3 linked regions of the Homo sapiens genome follow. The protein of the gene in region 2 interacts with the protein of the main gene of each other region in a pairwise test. Each region holds a gene or a part of one and is shown on either strand. Other genes may lie near its edges.

The links. The genes of interacting proteins can lie anywhere in the genome.
Region 1: the proteins of KRTAP12-2 (region 2) and NOTCH2NLA interact in binary tests that used the Homo sapiens proteins (3 or more experiments, as listed by UniProt).
Region 3: the proteins of KRTAP12-2 (region 2) and MYOZ1 interact in binary tests that used the Homo sapiens proteins (3 or more experiments, as listed by UniProt).

The regions. Positions count from the first base shown.
Region 1 is NC_000001.11:146,226,006-146,233,969, forward strand, and holds the start of NOTCH2NLA (notch homolog 2 N-terminal-like protein A), read right to left. Parts: upstream 3,017-7,964; 5' UTR 2,707-3,016; coding exon of another isoform or gene 2,704-2,706; intron 1-2,703.
Region 2 is NC_000021.9:44,665,682-44,671,035, forward strand, and holds KRTAP12-2 (keratin-associated protein 12-2), read right to left. Parts: upstream 1,247-5,354; 5' UTR 1,206-1,246; coding exon 765-1,205; 3' UTR 508-764; downstream 1-507. UniProt on the Homo sapiens protein: In the hair cortex, hair keratin intermediate filaments are embedded in an interfilamentous matrix, consisting of hair keratin-associated proteins (KRTAP), which are essential for the formation of a rigid and resistant hair shaft through their extensive disulfide bond cross-linking with abundant cysteine residues of hair keratins.
Region 3 is NC_000010.11:73,638,459-73,645,596, forward strand, and holds the start of MYOZ1 (myozenin-1), read right to left. Parts: upstream 3,017-7,138; 5' UTR 2,953-3,016; intron 1,578-2,952; 5' UTR 1,560-1,577; coding exon 1,487-1,559; intron 1-1,486. UniProt on the Homo sapiens protein: Myozenins may serve as intracellular binding proteins involved in linking Z-disk proteins such as alpha-actinin, gamma-filamin, TCAP/telethonin, LDB3/ZASP and localizing calcineurin signaling to the sarcomere.

The DNA of each region.
Region 1 (7,964 bases), on a different chromosome or scaffold from region 2:
ATCCAGGTGAACCAAAAGTTGCTTCTCTATGTCATAGAAGCCTACAGGAGAGGCAGTAGGGTGGGAATGGAGCAGAGAGATCCCAAGAAGTTATGGGTAAATATTTTTTAAATCTAAACATTCAGAAAAATAAGAGAGACTAGGAATCACTCTCCTCCTCCTCTCCACCACACCAAAAAAAAAGGAATAATAAGAAAGTGAAAGGAAAAATAGTTTTAGGTTAAATTTCATCACCATCTGAAAGAAAATTACTCCGATTTTGTTTAAGCAAGAGAAGAATTCAGCTGAGAAATTATCTAGCAGGCAGCAAAATCAGGGAGTCACTTCCCATTGCAAAGCAAAAGAAAACAAGGAGCAAGAGTATGGTCCTGGATAGCTGTTTAGACAATCAGACATACTGCTAACATCTCCTTGCCTTAGAAACTCCGTGATGTTTAAATTAACAATTGGCCACAAGCCAAACACAGGAACACTCAAAAGTTTAGAAGGGTGTGCTGTAATTGGTACCTTAGCAAAACACAATAATAAATTAGGAGGATTCAAGAAGCCTTCACTGTAGACTCTAAGAAGATTTAAGATTTGTACCAAGAAACAGGCTTCTAAATCTCTTCTACTGCATTAGTTTAGCATCTAAAGAACACCTGTCTAAAAATCAAAATATCTAAATCCTATCCTTTGAGTCAACTTGACTAACACTCAACTTGACTACCTAAAAGCTAGCTAATAATCGCAGCACCTCAGCAGAGCAGAGGTGGAGGGCATAGTTTTACGCACTGAGATCCTATAATAAAAGAAGCCCTATGTGTCAGAGTAATCCCATTTCTGACATATTATTTAATACTTAATTTTTCAAATCACTTTACAATCATATTTATTATTCCCTACAATTCTCTAAAGCAGGTTATTCCTTTAGTCCTGCTTCATAGGTGAGGAGACTACATATCATGAAGATTAAGTTATTTACCAAAACAAGTTAATGATAGACCAAGGATTATTACCCTCAGACTGTCTCATTGATTATACTCCTCTCTATCCTAAAGCTACACTTAAAGCTTTCACTCAAAGAAAAAGGAAAAGCAAAAACACCATCATATATGCTCTTTATTAAATGCTTCAGAAACAACAGCTCTGCTTCATCACTACAAAGCCTCCTGGTCCACTTCTGAAATTCTTAGTGACCTAGACGTGTACGAAATTTGAACTTTCCAAGAAGTATCTAGTTGGTGCTGAACAACCCAGTACTATTTTCGGGTGATAAATAACCTTGTTCTCTTTTTAAACATCTGCGATTGACATGTCGACTGACTGTTAACAATGAACAAAGACCATATTTTTCTGAAGCTCATCATCTTCCTAACCTTTTCTTTGAAAACAGATGTAGTTCATGTACTAGTTTTTTGGTGAAGGTAAAAATCTTTATTCAGATTAGGCTCAGAAAAAGAAGGGGCTGCTTTCCGTTCAACAAATATGCACAAGACACCATCCCACTGGGAGCATCAATCTCAGAAGCAGTAAAACACAGCCTCGGCCCTCAAAGGACTTTCTGAACACCTTTGGAGTGTCATCCGTTTAATATACATTATTTTAATTAATCCTATTAGCTGGATAATTTCATTCCCATTTTATTGGTGAGTTCATATAGCAGAGCTGGATTTGAATCCAGGATTACAGAGCAGGGCTCCAAAGCCCAAGTTATTTCCACTAAAGGGTCTGAAGAAATGTAGAATCTAAAAGTGTGGGTGGGATGGGGAAGATATGATTTGATTCCCTTTCCTTGGTCCAACCGTGTTAGAAACATCCAACCACAAAGAAGCTTTCTAAGGAAGCCCTTTGAATTGACGTATCCACTTTTTCTCACCCGCCCGTGCCCCACCCCCAGCCATGCCAAAGGAGCAGCAAATGCTGCTGCCAGGTTGGAGGAATTGGTGATCGTCACACCACATTCCTGGGTCTGGACACAGCCTGAAACAGCAGCAGAGCTCCGCGCCTCAGAAAGAATAACAGCAGTTGAGATTTTTAAATCATGTGCCTCAGCATGCAGCCACACCAGTTGCCCTACTTCTCCTGCCTCCACCTTTCAAAGACGCGAGCAGCACACCCGGCTCCTCCGGACTTTCGGTGGGGTTGGAGTGTCAAAACTCAGGCGCGCCGCAAAACCCCGTCCCCATCCAAACCAAGCCCACACACCCGGCCCATGTGCCGCCCCCTGGCAAAGGCGAGGCTGGCTGCGAAGGTGCAGGCCGTTTGGCTTGGCGGCCCTGCCCCCGCTCTCCACGCCAGAATCTGGCATTCCTTCGCTCAGCCCCTCCGAGGCCCGCCGTCGGCTCTCGCTCGACCCCAGGAAACGCGGAACCTGAAGGGCAAAACTGCCCACCTCCCTGCACCCTGGCACTACGAAAAAGGAGTTTCTGAGACTTGCTGCCGGCCTCCCTCCTGCCGAGGAGGCGTGTGAGGGGTCCCGGGCCGCGGGGAGCAGAGGCGGCGGGGAACCCCGGCGGTTGGCGGGGAACCCCGGCGGTTGGCGGGGCACCACGGGAGGGGCCCCCGGCGATGTCCAAACTCTCGGGAACCCAGCGAGTGGCCTCGCTCCGCGCCGGCGGCCGAGCCTGGCCTTCCCACACAGAGAAGGACCGAGGGGGAGAAGGGTCGCCCCAGGTGGCAGCCCCGGGCGCCGCGGACAGCGCCCCTCAGCCCGATACTCACCATGCGCGGGGGTCGCGCAGCACAGCCAGAGCGCCAGCAGCGCCCACAGCAGAGCGGGGCGCAGGGCGGGTATCTTCTCGGTCGCCTCCTCCGCCGCCGCCGCCGCGGCCGCCTGGGCAGATCCACATGGGGAGGGGGTCCCGATAGAGGAGCCCCACTCTCTCCTCCCCTCCTCCTGCTTCAAAGGCTCAGGCCCTGGCGCTACGCTCCGAAGCCCAGCGCAAATGCCTCGACTCCCCGCGCCCCGAGTCCGCCGCTCCTCGGCCGCCGCCTCAGCCGCCGCCCGAAGTTTGGCTGAAACTTTCTCGGGTGTGCAGCGAAGCAGCCTCGTGTGTCCTTCCGCCTCAGCCGCCTCCTCCCACCGCAAGCCCCGCCCCACTGTCGCCGCGGCCTCGGCCCCGCCGCCTTGGGCACCCAGGGGTTTCCCGCAGGAAGAAGCGCCGGCCCGAGCTCCGCGCGGAGGGATCTACTACGAGTCACTGGCCCCGTCCGCATCCTTCTCCAGCGGCCCCGGGGGCCGCCGCGCCTTAACTCGATCAGGGCTGCAGCGGCTCGCTGGCTTGACCAGTGCAGAAGGGGCGTGGAGGTGAGCGGGGTGGGGTAGGACTCTGAACTTCAAGCACTGGAGTTTGCCGGGATCGTGAACTTGCAGGGAGAGGCGGTCCTCATCCAGTGAGGTCTGTATCGCCACCTACACCCACACATCCACACACTGCTTTGCTAGCTAGAGGAATGCTCTGGAGTAGGACCAGTGCTGTCAAAGAAGGAAAGTGGGCCAAGGCGCCAAAGTCCATTAAAAAGGAATAGAGCCATCACGGAGTGGTGCTGCCCCATTCATTCATTCATTTGTTCATCCGTGTAGCGAATATTTCTTAAGTGCCTTACTTTGCGTAGCTGTGTGCTTGGCAGTGGGATGATACCAAAGATGCACAAGCAACTTTGAGTACCAAGACTTTGCCGCTGTGGGCTGGGGGATTCAGGGAAGGCTTTCCCAGAGGAGCTGGGATGAAAGCAGGATCTTGAAAGGTCAGTAAAATTTGTATAAGACAAGGAGACCAGCTAAGCTAAGGATATTCGTTGTAACACTGTAATAGCAAAACCTTGAAAACAACATAAATGCCCACCCTTAGAGGAATGGATGAATAATGTATGGTATATTTATAAAATGAAATGCAACACAGTAATTGAAAAGACTATAGCTATTTATGTCAATAGGGATAAATCTTAAAAACTAAATGACAGTGAAAATAATCGCAGAGGGAGACAAAGTATACCATTTATGTATATTTTTTTCAAGACAATACTACACATTATCTGTGGATGCATATATATAGATATAGATATTAAGAGACTATAACCAGAATAGTAGTTACTTCCAGGGCAGGAGAGTAGGGGGTGTGATCAAACCTGGGTACAAGTGGGCTTCTAAGAAAAGAGCTAAAAGTAAGAACAACAACAATAGTTGTATGGACATATCATTCCGGGAAAGAGCCCTCGTGAAAGCAAAGGTACAGTCAGAAGAGTAAGTAAATGAGTTCTGTCTCTGTTAGCAGTGAGAGGAGTCAAGGACGGAAAGGGGGTTGGGACCAAATTATGCAGCCTTGAATGGCAAGCTGAAAGGGTGGGGAGGCAGCTACCTCTTAGGTCACATAAAACTATTGAAAGTTTTTGAACAGAGTTGAGATTGATGGAAAGGAAGATTGCTCTGATAATTCTGTAGAAAATTGATTGTTGGGAGCAAGAGGTGAACTGGAGCCCCAGGACCAGTCAAGAGTTGGTGAACAGTCCAGGCACAAATTTAAGAAGACCTGAACTAATAAGGTAGATTTCAGAAGGAATGAATCTGAGACAATGTTAAAGAAACAGAAAAAAAAAATGGAGGTGTGACTAATTGGATGTGGGAGTTTACAATCCTGTTGGGATGAGAAATCCTACCCATAGAACCTCTCCCTGACTCCTATAGGATAAAATTCAAACTTCTAAACATGGTACATACAAGGCCTTTTCGTCATTGGGCCCCATCTCCTGTCCTCCCTGCCCCTGTTGTGAACTTCACACAATAACAGTATTACTTGAGATTCCCCCAAACATATCTTGCTGTTTCTGTCCCTGTATCTTTTGTTCCTTTGGCTTGGAATGACTCCTGTAGTCCCCTTCCCTCCTCCTCTTAATGAACTTCTAATCATAATTCATCCTTCAGTCCAAAGAAGGCTTTGCCGACACCACAATAAATTCCTCCCTCTAACAGACAGTCCCTCCACTGTCTTCCACTGCCGCTTCTTTATCTTAACACCGATACTTATTTTTCACACAGGACTCTTTGTATTTCTGTGTTCTCAACTAAGTTTTGAGGTCCTCATGGGCAAAGACCACAGCCTATTAATCCCCAGTGTCTATCACATAATAGATGTTGAACTAGAATGTAAAACAACACTAAGCAAGTACAAGTCAGTATGGGCATAGACCTATGAAGTTCCAAAACTGCATGTTAACAAGCACTTTAGGTAAGCAAGTATCATTAGTGAAAGTAGTCACATTGAAATACTGGAAACCCTTTTCAAAAATAACGTAGTCAAAATATTTTTGGAATTTGTCTTGTGCAAGTATGTTCAGAGAAAGATAACATTATTTTTCAGTTGTTTACCCACAGTGTTACCAGTTCGATCTTCCTCTTTACTCACTAAAGATAATTCATAGTGACTTGGCTGCATACAAATTTTAAAAATCACCTGCAAAGATAAGTTTTGTCACTATTAAAATATATTCAGAAGAATATAAGATAGTTATCCCCAAAGAGCAACTCTAGAAGCGACTGTAGCTATGACAACATTATTAAAATAAATGTGCAGGCCAGGCGTGGCGGCTTATGTCATAATCCCAGCACTTTGGGAAGCTGAGGTGGGCAGATCACCTGAGGTCAGGAGTTCGAGACCAGCCTGGCCAACATGTTGAAAACCCGTCTCTACTAAAAATACCAAAAATTAGCCGGGCATGGTGGCGAGCACCTGTAATCCCAGCTACTCAGGAGACTGAGGCAGTAGAATCACTTGAACCCAGGAGGCAGAGATTGCAGTGAGCCAAGATCGTGCCACTGTACTCCAGCCTGGACAACAAGAGTGAAACTCCGTCTCAAAAAAAAAAAAAAAAAAATAGGTATGCAGTTTCTCAAAGTAACCGTTTTAAAGAAAGCAGCTATTATGTTCACATATAACTTTTGTTGAATGTGTTACAATATGAAAACTTACTGCATACATTCTGGTAAGGACAAGAGAAGTAAAGAGTAAATATGAATGGAAGTAAGGGAAAAATATGACTGAAGACATTTTTTAAAGATAAGTTTTAATGATAGAAAAATATGAGTAAGGGCTACCAATTGTTTTAGTTTTAATCAAAACTAAAAATATACATCTATGTCTTTACTGATTTAAACTCACATAAAACTGCCTTCCAAAATAAATGCAGAATTGGGCACTTATTTGTTCTCATGTCTGTCCTCTCAGAGCCGACAAGCTGTAAAAAACTCTCAAAATAAAACTCTGTTTTATTTTCTGTTTTGCCCCGGTTTCTATCACATAAGTGCTCAATAATATATGTTTTACATAAATGCTGAATGAGGAACATATATATCTATATAAACTGGGGAGCAGTGCAAGACTGGAAGAATGTCTTGGTGTGTTGGAGAAGTTGAAGAAGAGATTGTGGGATAGCTATGACACATAGATTGAGCTACACCACGAATCTCTCCATGTAACCCAGGAACCCAAGGATATGTGATGAGATGTTTGTGGAAGCAGGAATTAAAAGGAAGATTTCTTTTAATAATGCCTTGCAGTTGCACAGTGATTTAGACCTTCCAAAAACACTTTTAATTATATTATCTCATTTGATCCTCAAAACAATCGTGGGAAATAGGCACCCCAGTCATTATTATCCCCATTTTGCAGATGAAGAAACTGAGATAGAGCTTTAAGTATCTTGCCCAAGGTTAAATAAGTAATTAGTGAGCTGAGACAAACCCCCCACTATTTCTGTCCTCTTACTCAGTCTCACTCCACTGTACCTTTGTGCAACAATGTGAAGCACATCCAAGATGATATTTAGTGTGGGGACCTCTGCGTAGAGGGACACCAGTTTCTTGTCACTTCCATATTAGCACAGAACAAGCTGGCCCACTGTAACTAGGAAACATAAACAAGTGAATACATTCTTTTAATTTAAAATTTTTTTGAGAGCCTGTTCTCTATAAAGCACATACTAGGCTCTGCGGCAATGCAGAAATAAATAAAACCTAGTCCCTGTTCTTTGGAGATCACAGAGCAGTGAGGCAGGCCAACATACAAATAACATAACTACAACAGAGATAAAGCACAGGGATATGGGAAAGTAGAGAGCACTGGGATTAATTTTGAGTCCACTTTCCTCTCATCCAGTCCCCAGCCTGAAAGATATGAACTGTGGTGGCCCACACAGCTGGACTGTAAACCATGTGACAAGAGTCATTTCTTACCCCTTATTCATGTTTGTAAACTCCACAGTAGTTGGTTCTTTGCCTTGCATAGAGTATGTGCTCAATAAAGACCTACTTTCTGAAAGGTTCACAGAGTTCAGCCAAACACAGGACAAGTTCTAGAAGGCAAGACGTTAACCTCAAGATTCAAACTAGCTCTGAGAATTAAGAACCAGCCAGACCCTTCCACTGAGCCTAGACCCAATTAATTACCTCTGCTCTAATTAAGGGAATCAGTAATGTAAGTAATTGTAATATGGGCGATATAGTTTGCCTGTGTCCCCACCCAATATCTTATTTTGAATTGTAATCCCCATGTGTCAAGGGAGAGACCAGGTGGAGGTAATTGAATCATGGGGGCGGTTTCTCCCATGCTGTTCTCCTGATAATGAGCGAGTTCACGAGATCTGATGGTTTTATGTGTTTGGTAGTTCCTCCTGCATTAATTTTCCTTCATGCTGCCTTATGAAGAAGGTACCTTGCTTCCCCTTTGCCTTCTGCCATGATTGTTAAATTTCCTGAGGCCTTCCCAGCCATGCTAAACTGTGAGTCAGTTAACCTGTTTCCTTTATAAATTACCCAGTCTTGGGCAGTTCTTTACAGCACTGTGAAGACAGACTAATACAGTGGGCTTGTTGACATAGTTTTGCCCTTTTATGAATGTGATTATCTCAATTTTATTATGTTAAGGAAGGACACAGTGGCCCACACCTGTAATCCCAACACTTTGGGAGTCCAAGGCAGAAGGATGGCT
Region 2 (5,354 bases):
GTCAGGCAGTGGGTTCATGCGGGTTTATTATATTAGGATCCTCAGTAATTGATCATCAGTCAATCAATAAAAACCAAGCCTTTGTGGACCAGTGATGGGAGTGTGTGCCGCAGAACTAATCCAGTTCTGTAAACTTGAGATCCTCCGCGACCTGGGAAACAGGACGTCCACCAACCACATCAGAAAACCCAATTGTCAATGCTCTGAGGCTTTGGCCATCAGTGCAGGGCTTGTTGGCCTGGAGCAGGAGTGGACAGCCAGTGGGGAAGCGAGACCACTCTACCACAGGCGGGTAAGTCACTTCTGTGGCCACTGCACCTGGGCCCCAGGAGCCCTGGGAGAGACCACATGGGCATCTGCAGCTGCGCCCTCCACCCGGGACACCACCTTCTGATGAGCACTGGGTGAAGGGATCACTGAAGAGGGTTTAGCAGCAAATTCTATGTAATCAGCAGAATAGATAGCAGGGAGTATGGAAATAAAAAAGAAAGACCAGAAATGCAGAGCTGCATGGGGAAAGCTGGTTTATTTGGCTCTCATGGGGTCAGAGAATGACTCTGGGACCCCAGACTTCCCTGGGGGGATGGGCAAGGTCAGCAAGGGCTCCAGATCATTCTGTCACATTCTCAATCCAGAATTCAGAGGGTTCAACTGAGCATGCTTTTCACCTGCACCATGTGCAGAAGACCAACTGAGGACTCATCCAGGGAGTGTACAGGTGTGGCCTCATCTGCACTGGGAGCAGCGGGTCTGGAGATTCATGCTCAGCAGCAGGAAGAGATACTGTAGGAGATGGGTCTGCAGAGGACGCTGGTGCAGGAGGGCTGGCAGCACCCAGAGGACTGGCAGGACGGAGCCGCATACACGACAGGCCTGCAGCTCACAGGCACGCACAGGGAGGACTGGCAGGAGGGGGCTGCACACACAATGGGCCTGCAGCTCACAGGCACACACACAGAAGACTGGCAGCTCACGGGCACGCACACAGCTGACTTGAAGCTCATGGGCACACACACAGAAGACTGGCAGCTCACGGGCAGGCACACGGCTGGCTTGAAGCTCACGGGCACACACACGGAGGACTGGCAGCCCACAGGCACACAGCAGGATGCCTGGCAGGAGCTGGGCACACAACAGGCTGGCTGGCAGGGGCTGGGCGCGCAGCAGGCTGGCTGGCAGCCCGAGGAGCAGCTGGTATGACACATGGTGGCGTGTGGCTGGATAAGGTCGAGGCAGAGGGCAGTGATGTCTGGGGACGGCCTCCCTGGGCAGCCTTTATACCTGGGCCCAGGCATCCCCACAGCACAGAAGCACACCTGTCTTCCTTGTTTTTCTTCCTCAGTGCTGTCTCCTGGAGCTTAATTTTCTGTTGTAGGTGTCTCTGGGTTTTGTTTGGCCCTTAGCTTCATGACTAATTGCACCTTCTTCGAACTCTTGGTATGCTTGGAAACCTGCCAGAGTGTTTTACTGGCTTCATCAAGATTCTTCCTTGTTCTTTAAAATTTTACCTGAGTTACTTTTGTGAGATTCCAAAAACTCAGATCTCCAGATTTTTTTCCTCTCTGTGTGATGATGGTCCTTAAACCACAGAAGTTTACACTCCTCTCATGGCTCAGGAAGGCTCCACAGTCAATGTGAGGTAGAACAGGACGTGTCTAGCTGATCTGTGGGTGTCCTGAGAGCTTAGAGCTGGATGAGAGCTAGCAGATGGAGGAAGAACATGGAAATCACTTGTCCATAGGATGAGTGGGGACAAAGGGTGTGGGTCACAGAGAACTTCTTGTGAGTGGTGACCATGGATCTTTGTCTTGAGAAATCCTCCTAGTTAAGAACCAAGATGAGACAACACCACTGGCCCTCATGCATGGAGACACAGCTCTAAGGAAATCAAGCTGGTCCAAGCATGTTCCCAGGGAAGCATGTGAGGCCAGTGAAGGGTCCCATGGACAGCCACAGCAGGATATGTGTGAGCTGAATATAGAAGGTTCCAAGGGCCAGAATGACTTCTGGGTATGTTCAGCAGAAAGCCATGTGCACCCTGTACTGCAGGGACAGTAGAATCTCTGAGCCTACAGATGTCAACACCAGATCACTTGGAACTTGGCATCATGATAACAGAATGAAGGAAAAAACCACGTGATCATCTCAATTGATATAGAAAAGGCATTTCACAAAATTCAAGATTCTTTCATGATGACAACAATCAACAAACTAAGAATAGAAGAAAACTACCTCAACACAATACAAGCCATACATGAAAGACCCACAGCAAGCCTCATACCCACTGGTGAAAAACTGAAGGCTTTTTCTCTAATATTGGGAACAAAGCCAGCATAGTACTAGAAGTTTTACTAAGAGCAACTAGGCAATTGTTTTTAAAAGGAAGAAAGAAAGAAACAAAAAGCATCCAAATTGAAAAGCAAGAAGTAAAGTTAGCTGTGTTCACAGATGACATGATTTTTATATGTAGAAAACTCTAAATATTCCACACACAAAAATTTTAGAATAAATGAATTCAGCAAAGTAGCAGGATACAAAAGCAAAACACAAAAATCAGTTCTATTTCCATAAACTAACAAGCATAATCTCAAAAGGAAAGTACAATAACAATTCCATTTACAATACATTAAAAAGAACAAAATACTCAGGAGTTAACCAAAGAATTAAAATAATTGTGTAACAAAAACTACAAAACGTTGAAAGAAATTAAAGGCAACAGAAATAAATGGAAACACATCCCATGTTCATGAATTGGAAATTAATATTGTTAATATGTCCATACTAACCAAAGCAATCTACAGATTCAATGCAATCCCTGTCAAAATCCCAAGGACATTTCTTGCAGAAATAGAAAAACCCATCCTAAAGTTTATGTGGAGTCTCAAGGGACCCTAAATAGCCAAATCAATCTTAAGAAAAGAATAGAGCTGGAGGAGTCACACTTTCTGATTTCAAAACTTACTACAAAGCTACACTAATCAAAACTGTGGTACTGGCATAAAGACCAATATATAGACTAATGGAATAGCATAGAGAGCCCAGAAATAAACTCTCACAACTACAGTCAAATAATTTTCGGCAAGGCTGTCAAGACCTTTCAGTGAGGGAAGAACAGACTTTTTAACAAATGGCAGTGGGAAAACAGGATATCCACACACAAAAGATTATTTTTAACCCTTACCTCACACCATATACAAAATTAACTCAAGATCAAAGATAGAGAATCTCAGTAGGGAAATTGAAACTATTTTTTAAATGGGAATGCTAGAACTAAAATGTACAATAGCTGATATTTTAAAATCCACATGATAGACGTAAATATAGAATGAGATTGAAGAAGAGTTCATGAACTTGAAGCACATCAATAGAAATTATCCAAAATGAAGGAGAGGAAGAAAAAGAATTAAGAAAAATGAAAAGAGCCTGTGAGACATCATTAAACAGCATCACATATATGTAATATCAAACTCAGGTGGCTCACGCCTGTAATCCCAGCACTTTGGGAGGGCAAGGCGGCTGGATCATGAGGTCAAGAGATCGAGACCATCCTGGCTAACATGGTGCAACCCCGCCTCTACTAAAAATACAAAAATTAGCTGGGTGTGGTGGCACGTGCCTGTAGTCCCAGCTACTTGGGAGGCTGAGGCAGGAGAATCACTTGAACCCGGGAGGTGGAGTTTGCAGTGAGGTGAGATTGCACCACTGCACTCCAGCCTGTGACAGAGCAGGACTCCATCTCAAAAAAAATTAAATAAAAAAATAAAGCACTGGGCATTCTCCCCTAAAACACAAAGCTACAAACACAGAGCCTCCTCCACCCCTCAGCATCAAGGGGGCAAGGGTGAGGGGTTGGAGGGCTGTACTTTCAGTTAAAGAGAGGCTAGCTGTGTGCCTGCAGTATGGACTAAGGAGCCTGGAGCCTGGACTGAGGCTGCCAGGCTGAAAACCGAGACCATGACATCAGGTTCCAGCACACTCCATTGCTACTGGCAACAGCCATCCCAGTATTCCCACCATTCTCCTCCTCGGCTTACGGATCACCCGCAGGAGGTGGCGTGCCTTGTTGGGATGAACATCCGGATGCCCTTTGCCCCAGCAGTCCCACCCCCAGAGGTCCTACCCCCAGAACACTAACAAACAAATTGTGGAATAGGTTTGCAAATGTTTATATCAGCACCATCTGTAATAGCAGACTCTTGGGAACAACAGGCCTGCCCATCTACTGGGGGGCATTTAACCTGAAGTAGAAACAGCAGAACCCCAGGAAGGAGGCACGCTGAATACAGAATACACCCACAAGAAATGCAGAGGACCCTTAGCAACTCTGTACAGAGTGGGAGACATAAGTCTCAGAAGATTACTCAGAATAATTCCCTTTTAATATCATTCAAAACCACTAAATTAGAAAACACACATTTCAGGAATACAAAGAGATATGACTCAACTCTATTTTTTCTAGAAAGTAACAGAATAAAGGGCACATAATCCCAACAGTGGCTGCCCCAAGAAGTTCATGGTAAATTATTGATGATGTTCTAGTTTCTGTGTCAGGTAGTGGGTTCATGGTTCATAGGTGGGGGGGTTGTTATAATCATTAATAATTGATCAATCAGTAAAAAGTGGGCAGGCTCAAGAGGGCTGACTAGAGGCACCTGACACTTGCCTCTTCCACAAAGAACCCAAAAGAGTGAGAGGTAACAACATTTTGAATGGGACATCTGAGAGAGACACTGGAATTCAGCAAAGAAGCAACTGGAATTCAGCAAAGAAGCGACAGGAAATATCTGAGGCACAGAAGGCAAGGGAAGGGAGGCAGCTGGCCCAGCTAGAATCAGTCGGGAGCCCACAGAGACTCCCCAGTCCAGGGAAATGGTAAATGAGAGATTCCCAGCTGTCTACATTTCCACCATGGATTCAGCATGGACCTGAAACCCTAGCCATGGGAGAGCCTCTTATTCTTCACATGCCCTGAGACTTACATAGGGATTTGCCAGGATGCCACATAATGGCATTGCTCCAGAGAAAGAGCCCACACTGGGTCTCACACACCCACCAGGTCCTGAGCAGCTGTAGCATGGTGCCATTTTGAGAGCCCAGCCCCTAAAAGTCTGCATCCTGCCCTGGGGCCCAACAGATCTTGTATCTCCACATCCCTTCAGCTCTGCCGAATCCCACAACCCCCACCAACCCAAGAGGGCTGCAGGAGTGCAATACCAGCTGGATGCATCAATAAGGCAGGGGTTCATGAACTTGCATGTACCCTGAGTACAGGCTTTCCCCACCCACCATCATAAATTACCCCACACTATTCACCATAGCCTGTGTCCATGCACACTGTGTGGCCTGGCACTGCA
Region 3 (7,138 bases), on a different chromosome or scaffold from region 2:
GGTCGCTGGGATTGCAGGCCTGCACCACCATCCCTGGCTGATTTTTATATTTTTTGGTAGGGATGGGGTTTCACCATGTTGGCCAGGCTGGTCGCAAACTCCTGAGCTCAACTGACCTACCAGCCACGGCCTCCCAAAATGCTGGGATGACAGGCGTGAGCCGTGGCGCCCAGCCTACATTTTATTTATTTATTTATTTATTTATTTATTTATTTATTTATTTATTGAGTCAGAGACTTGCTCTGTCTCCCAGGCTGAAGTGCAATGGCGCGATTGCAGCTCACTGCAACCTCCATCTCCTGGGTTCAAGTGATTCTCCTCCCTCAGTCTCCCAAGTAGCCGGGATTACAGGCACCCGGCACCATGCCCAGTTAATTTTTCTATTTTTGTAGAGACAGGGTTTCACCATGTTGGCCGGGCTGGTCTTGAACTTCTGACCTCAGATGATTGGCCCACCTCAGCCTCCCAAAGTGCTGGGATTACAGGCATGAGCCACCACGCCTGGACTTTTTTTTTTTTTTTTTTTTTAATGGAAATGAGGTCTCATTATGTTGTCCAGGCTGGTCTTGAACTCCTGGGCTCAAGTGGTCCTCTCACCTCAGCCTCCCAAAGTGCTGCGATTACAGGTATGAGACACAGCCCCAGCCCTATTTGTATTATTTATTTTGAGACAAAATAAATATATCTTAGGATGAACTCTGTCACCCAGGCTGGAGGGTAGCGTCGCAATCATGGCTCACGGCAGCCTCCACCTCCCGGGTTCAAGCGATCGTCCCACCTCAGCCTCTGGAGTAGCTGGGACTCTAGGCACATGCCACTACACCTGGCTAATTTTTGTACTTTTTGTAGAGACGAGGTTTTACCATGTGCCTAGGCCAGTCTCAAACCCCTGAGTTCAAGCGATCCACCAGCCTTGGCCTCCCAAAGTTCTGGGATTACAGGCGTGAGCCACTGCACCTGGCCCAGACTTCTGTCTTAACTACTTTCCCTTTTCTTTCCCTCAGTGAGCTCTGGCTCCAAAGAGTCTCTAGGTATTGAAGAGCTCTTCACATGCATGCACCCCTGCCCACCCCCAGGAAACATGCCTGTGCAGTTTTCCATTTTAAGTACTTACACAAGCTCCCTAGCTCTGGGGAAAGAAGTAAGGGAAATTAACCACTTATTGAGACCTGAGTCTGTGCCAGTCTCCATTATATTTTCTTCCTCAAATATACCTCACTGACTCATGGGTCCTGTGGTCCTGGACCTGTGCAGGTAACATGGCAGGGTATTGTCTCAGATTATGAAGTGAAAAGGGTAGAAGGTGTTGAATCTTTTCTCTCTTTCTCCTTACCCTTCTTAATCTTCCCTCTCCCACTCCCCATCACCCGCCTTCCCACCACTTAATTTCTCTTGTTTGTTCACCCTAAGATATATATTTCTGGGACTCTTGGTTTAGGGATGCTCTTAAGAAGTCCCACACTAGGGAGATGCAAACATGTCCTACCTCCAGTGAGTTCCATGATCAGCTTGCTGGATTTCCTCTTCTTATTAGGGGCCGGGGTTCCTGAGAGCGGCATTGTGGAGGTGGATTCAGCCTGGACAGGGTGGGAAGGAGGAGTTGGTGGATGGACAGGGACTGGGAAGAGTGAGTGTCTGTAGGAGAGCAGCACTTCTTAACCTGGGTTTAAGGGCTTGAGGGGACAAAAAAATTTTTTTTTCTTTTTTAGAGACAGGATCTCACTCTGTCGCCCAGGCTGGAGTGCAATGGCACAATCATGCCTCACTGCAGCCTCAACCTCCCTGGGCTCAGGTGATCCTCCAACTTCAGCCTCCCAAGTAGCTGGGACTATAGGTGCGCACCACCGTGCCTGGCTAATTTTTGTATTTTTTGTAGAAATGTGGTTTTGCCATGTTGCCCAGGCTGGTCTCAAACTCCTGGGCTCAAGCAGTCCTCCTGCCTCCCAAAGTGCTGAGATTACAGGGGTGAGCCACTTCACCTGACCCAGATTTTCAAAGAAGCATGTATTTCCCCAAAAGGTGAAAACTTGCGCTTTAGGGCTTCTCTTTTCTTGGGATACAGGACAGGAAGTATAGATGCACACCAGCCCCTGTTGTCTACCAACCTGTTGTGAGCTGTTTTTCATAGAGTCAGTGCAGGAATTAGGAACATAGCTAGGTGTGGGGAGTGTTTAAAAAACAATAACACAAGCAGGGCAATGCACCCAGGTTTCATTGGCTTGGCATGATTTGAAGTTTTTATTTGCACTGGGATATCAGACTGGGGCTGTGATTCCAGGCTCTGGTCTCTCCTCAGTCTTCCCCCAGTCCCCAGGAGGACAGAGAAATATTCTGCCAGGGTTGAGGAGATTCAGCCAAAAACACTCTCCATAGGAAGGAGAGGTTGTTGCTCCTTCATCAGGCCAGCTGGAACATGGCCTGGGAAGTCATGGCCCTGCTCCTGCAATCACTCCCGCCACAGACCCCAGAGTGGAGGCAGGTGTGGAACTGGGAAGGGTAGGGAGCATTCAAATCCCGACACGTCAATTCAGCAATATCATAGCAGTGGGGAATTGAGGTGGGGCAGAAACATAGTAATAGGATCTGGCAATGGAAAGGGACAAACTGGGATAAGATGGACTCCAATCCCTTCTTAAGAGAAGTTGGCACTCAGTGAAATGCTGTCCTCTTCTAAGTCCTGTCTCAAAAAATACATCTGCAACTCTACTGACTTAGTGGGGTCTCCCTTCCCATTCTTCCAGTGCCTCCCCCGACATCTCCATTCCCCCCAACCTCCTGGGCCCCTCTCCTTCCAACTCTCCTTCCCCTCTCCTTCCAACTGGACAGCTGGGAGCTGAGCATAGATGAGGAGAGGGGAGACTCCCCCAGGATCAAGAATCACAATTGTAGACACAGACACAGAAGTCAACACAGTGGGCTCCAGCCTTTCTAACGATAGAGCTGGAGACTTACCGGCTGCTCGGGCAGTGGTCAGCTCTCCCTGGGGTCCAGCAGCTTTGGAGGACTGAGCTGCTGTGACCGGAGAACACGAGCTGGGCAGGCGTGGGGGCAGCACTGGCAGTGGGGGAGGGAAGTTGGTTATTAATAGAGATGATGAGCGCAAGCAGCTCAAATGGCACAGGGGGTACTGAGACCCTGGAACCAAGATCCCTCCCTCCTTGCCCGGAGGCTCAGGAAGGAGGGAAAAGGCCTTTGGGATTCTCCCACTGAACTGTCTGAGCCAGGGATCAGTCTGCCCAGGGACTCCCCTTCACATTGCACCTAGAGCCTGAGATCCAAAGAAGCACTTAGGGAGAAACTGAAGACTGAGAGGGAGACAGGAAGTAGACAGCAAGTATTGGATAGGAATTCAGTCAGAGAGAGAGAGTCTGGGGAACATGCCCTGAGGGCCACACAGAGCCAATCCAGGGCAGAGTGGAGAGACCTGTGGGTGTATTTGGAGCAGGGAGGGCTTAAAGTGCTATATTTGGGGACAAAAAGGGAAGTCTTCACAGTGGAACTGCTCTTTTAAAGTTCCTGGATAGGTTGGTCTTTTCTCGGTAAGGGCTAGATCTTGGCAGGTTAAGGGACCAAATTAACTAAACCCAGTACCTCCTACAAAGGAATGATGTGGGGAAGACTTGACAATTATTCTGTCTGCCTCACTCCCTATTCTTTCCTCTTGAGCTCTGGCAGTTTTAATAAAAGACAAACACTTGGATCTGCATTTTTTTTTTTTTTTTTTTGAGATGGAGTTTCGCTCTTTTTGCCCAGGCTGGAGTGCAGTGGTGCGATCTCGGCTCACTGCAACCTCCACCTCCTGGGTTCAAGCAATTCTCCTGCCTCAGCCTACTGAGTAGCTGGGATTACAGGTGTCCACCACCATGCCCGGCTAATTGTTGTATTTTTAGTAGAGACGGGGTTTCACCACGTTGGCCAGGCTGGTCTCAAACTCCTGACCTCAGGTGATCCACCCACATTGGCCTCGCAAAATGTTGGAATTACAGGCGTGAGCCACCGCCAGGATCTGGTCTCTAAGGAGTTATTCTCTAGCCACCACGCCCAGCCAGGATCTGCCTTTTAACCTCCATTTGCTGTTGAGATGCTCAGTTCAACCTGCTGTGCGGGATAGACATCGATGTCTCCCTGAGAAGCACATATAGGCTCTCTGAGGTTTCTTTTCTTCTTCTTTTTTTTTTTTTTTTTTGAGACGGAGTCTCGCTCTGTTGCCCAGGCTGGAGTGCAGTGGCGCAATCTCGGCTCACTGCAAGCTCCACCTCCCAGGTTCACGCCATTCTCCTGCCTCAGCCTCCCGAGTAGCTGGGACTACAGGCGCCCACCAACACGCCCGGCTAAATTTTTTTTTGTATTTTTAGTAGAGATGGGGTTTCACCGTGTTAGCCAGGATAGTCTCGATCTCCTGACCTCGTGATCCATCCATCTCAGCCTCCCGAAGTGCTGGGATTACAGGCTCTCTGAGGTTTCTACTTGAGATTTCCTGCAAAGGGAGCACATACCACATAGGATCTGGACTGTGCCATTTGTACTGTTCCAGCGGAGTCTCTGGGCAGGGCCACAGGCTTGAAAGCCCCTTTGGGGAAAGCCTATCATTTCCCCAGGCCCTTCTTCAGTAGCTGCATGATCTTCCTCCACCTTCTGCTTAGATTCTGGAACCAGTTGCTGCAGCACTTCTGCTGCAGCCACCACAACCCTGTTGCTGCTACCTGAGGAAGTGGCTTTATTTATTTATTTATTTATTTGAGACAGGGTCTCACTCTGTTGCCTGTGCTGAAGTGCAGTGGCACAATTTTGGCTCACTGCAACCTCAGCCTCCCCAGGCTCAGGTAATCCTTCGACCTCAGCCTCCCAGGTAGCTAGGGCTGCTGGTACATGCCACCACGCCCAGCTAATTTTCATATGTTTTGTAGAGACAGGGTTTCACTATGTTTCCCAGGCTGGTCTCAAACACCTGGGCTCAAGCAATCCTCCTGTCTTAGCCTCCCAAAGTGCTAGGATTATAGGCGTGAGCCACTGTGCCTAGCTGGCTTTTTAAAAAATTATTTCTTTCTTTATTTTAGAGATGGGGGTCTCACTATGTTGCCCAGGCTGGACTTGAACACCTGGGCACAAGTGATCCTCCTACCTCAGCCTCTGAGTAGCTGGGACTACAGGCACGCACCAGGAAGTGGCTTTTGTAACTTCCTTTGTCCCCTTCTGAGCTCTTTACTCTTCCTGACCATGTCCTTTTTCCATCCTGTGGAGACCCTAAAAGGTATCCCCTCACAGTTGGCTTCTGCCCAGGCTAGTTATGCCTCCAGACCCCTCATCTTTTGTCCTCCTCCATCCCCTCCCAACCCAAGGAAGCAATTAGAAGATAAAATAGGCCGGGCGTGGTGGCTCATGCCTGTAATCACAGCACTTTGGGAGGCCGAGGTGGGTGGATCACTTGAGGTCAGGAGTTCAAGACCAGCCTGGCCAACATGGTGAAACCCAGTCTCTACTAAAAATACAAAAACTAGTCAGGCATGGCGGTGCGTGCCTGTAATCCCAGCTACTTGGGAGGCTGAGGCAGGAGAATCACTTGAACCCAGGAGGCAGAGGTTGCAGTGAGCTGAGATCGCACCACTGCACTCCAGCCTGAGCCACAGAGGGAGACTCCATCTCAAAAAAAAAGAAGAACTATAAATAGCTAAAGGTGACTTCATCATCACTACCACCCTCACCCTCAAAAACAAAAACAAACTGAAAGTTTGATCTCCTTCAACTGAGTACCCAAAACGACTGAGTGGGTGAAGACAGGCTATTTAACCTATGGTCTCTGAGATCTTTTTTTGGAATTCTAAGACAGTGCACTTGGAAGAGTCTGCGGCCTGGGTCTGATTATTGGCACAAATGTGCCCTCTGCTGGCAGAATCAGAGCAATGGCACTTTCCTTCTCTGAAGTCTAATTCTCACCTACCTCCAACGCCCTCCCTTCTTTAGTAGTCTCAATTCAGCTTTATTCTTCCCTCTCCCATCCCACCTTCCCCTCCAGCCCTCCAGCCATTGCTTTCTCTTCATTTACTTCCCAGAGACTGTTTAATATGGTTGCTTCCTCTAAGGAGCGAGGAAATGTTGATAGCAAAGGGCTCAGAGGGCCTTTCCAACTTCTCTGAGTTCTGTGAACTGAAGCCTTACCTAGAAAGTATGAGGCAAGGGAGGGAAAGGGGAGAACTTGGATGAAGACTGTGGGGAGAGGGAACCAAGAAGAGTGATGGAGGTGGCTAAATCAAAGCAGGACAGAATTTGTATAAAAGAGCAAAAGACCTGGGAACAAAGGGCAAAAGGATGAAAAATGGGAGGGCAGGAAAAGAGACAGATCAGAAATCAGATCAGGGGAATGGGTTAAAGAAGATTAAGGAGAGATCAGGATTTAGGAATAAAACTAGAAGATAACAGCAACAGAAGGTATGGGGCATAAATTTATTCTTGTGCACAAACCAAAGTATTGTGACTCACACCCAACAAGCAAAGGAAATTATCACTTTCCAGATTACACAGCAAACGTAGCTGGTGGTGGTCTTGGTGAGAAGGGAGTCCATACTAAGATTGGAGATCAGGACCTGAAGCTGAAAAGAAGCAATAGCTGGGGTTTTGAGGGATGGGGTGGGACTGAAAGGAGGTTTTGGCTCTGGGTATTTCCCTACTCTTTCCCAGGCAGTCATGGCAAGCTGCAGAAGACACACTGAAGAACAGACTCAAGGAAAATCACACAGACACCAACCGTTCTTTCAACACTCAGCACACACCCTCACACCTCCCTTCCACCATCATTCCCTTCCATTCTAACATTCTTCTCCCTCAAATTTTTTTCCAATCCCCCTCTCACACACGGTTGGTTTCTTGTTACTCAACTTTACCTTCTCCCAATATGGCATTGTCCCTCGCCACACTTCTGTCTGTGGCTCAATCACTTACACTCATTTCTGCCATGCTTCTGATTTTGGCCTCACTTGCCACACTCTGGCTCTCTTCTCCTTTCTCTCAAGCTCATGAGGCAATGAAGCCAATGATTTGTTCATTCTCGGAGGGAATTTTCTTTCTTTTTTTCATTTCCTGGGTACTGGGTTGCTCAGCACTGGCCTCTCAAGTTGCTAACTTTTTGAAATCCTGAGGTATA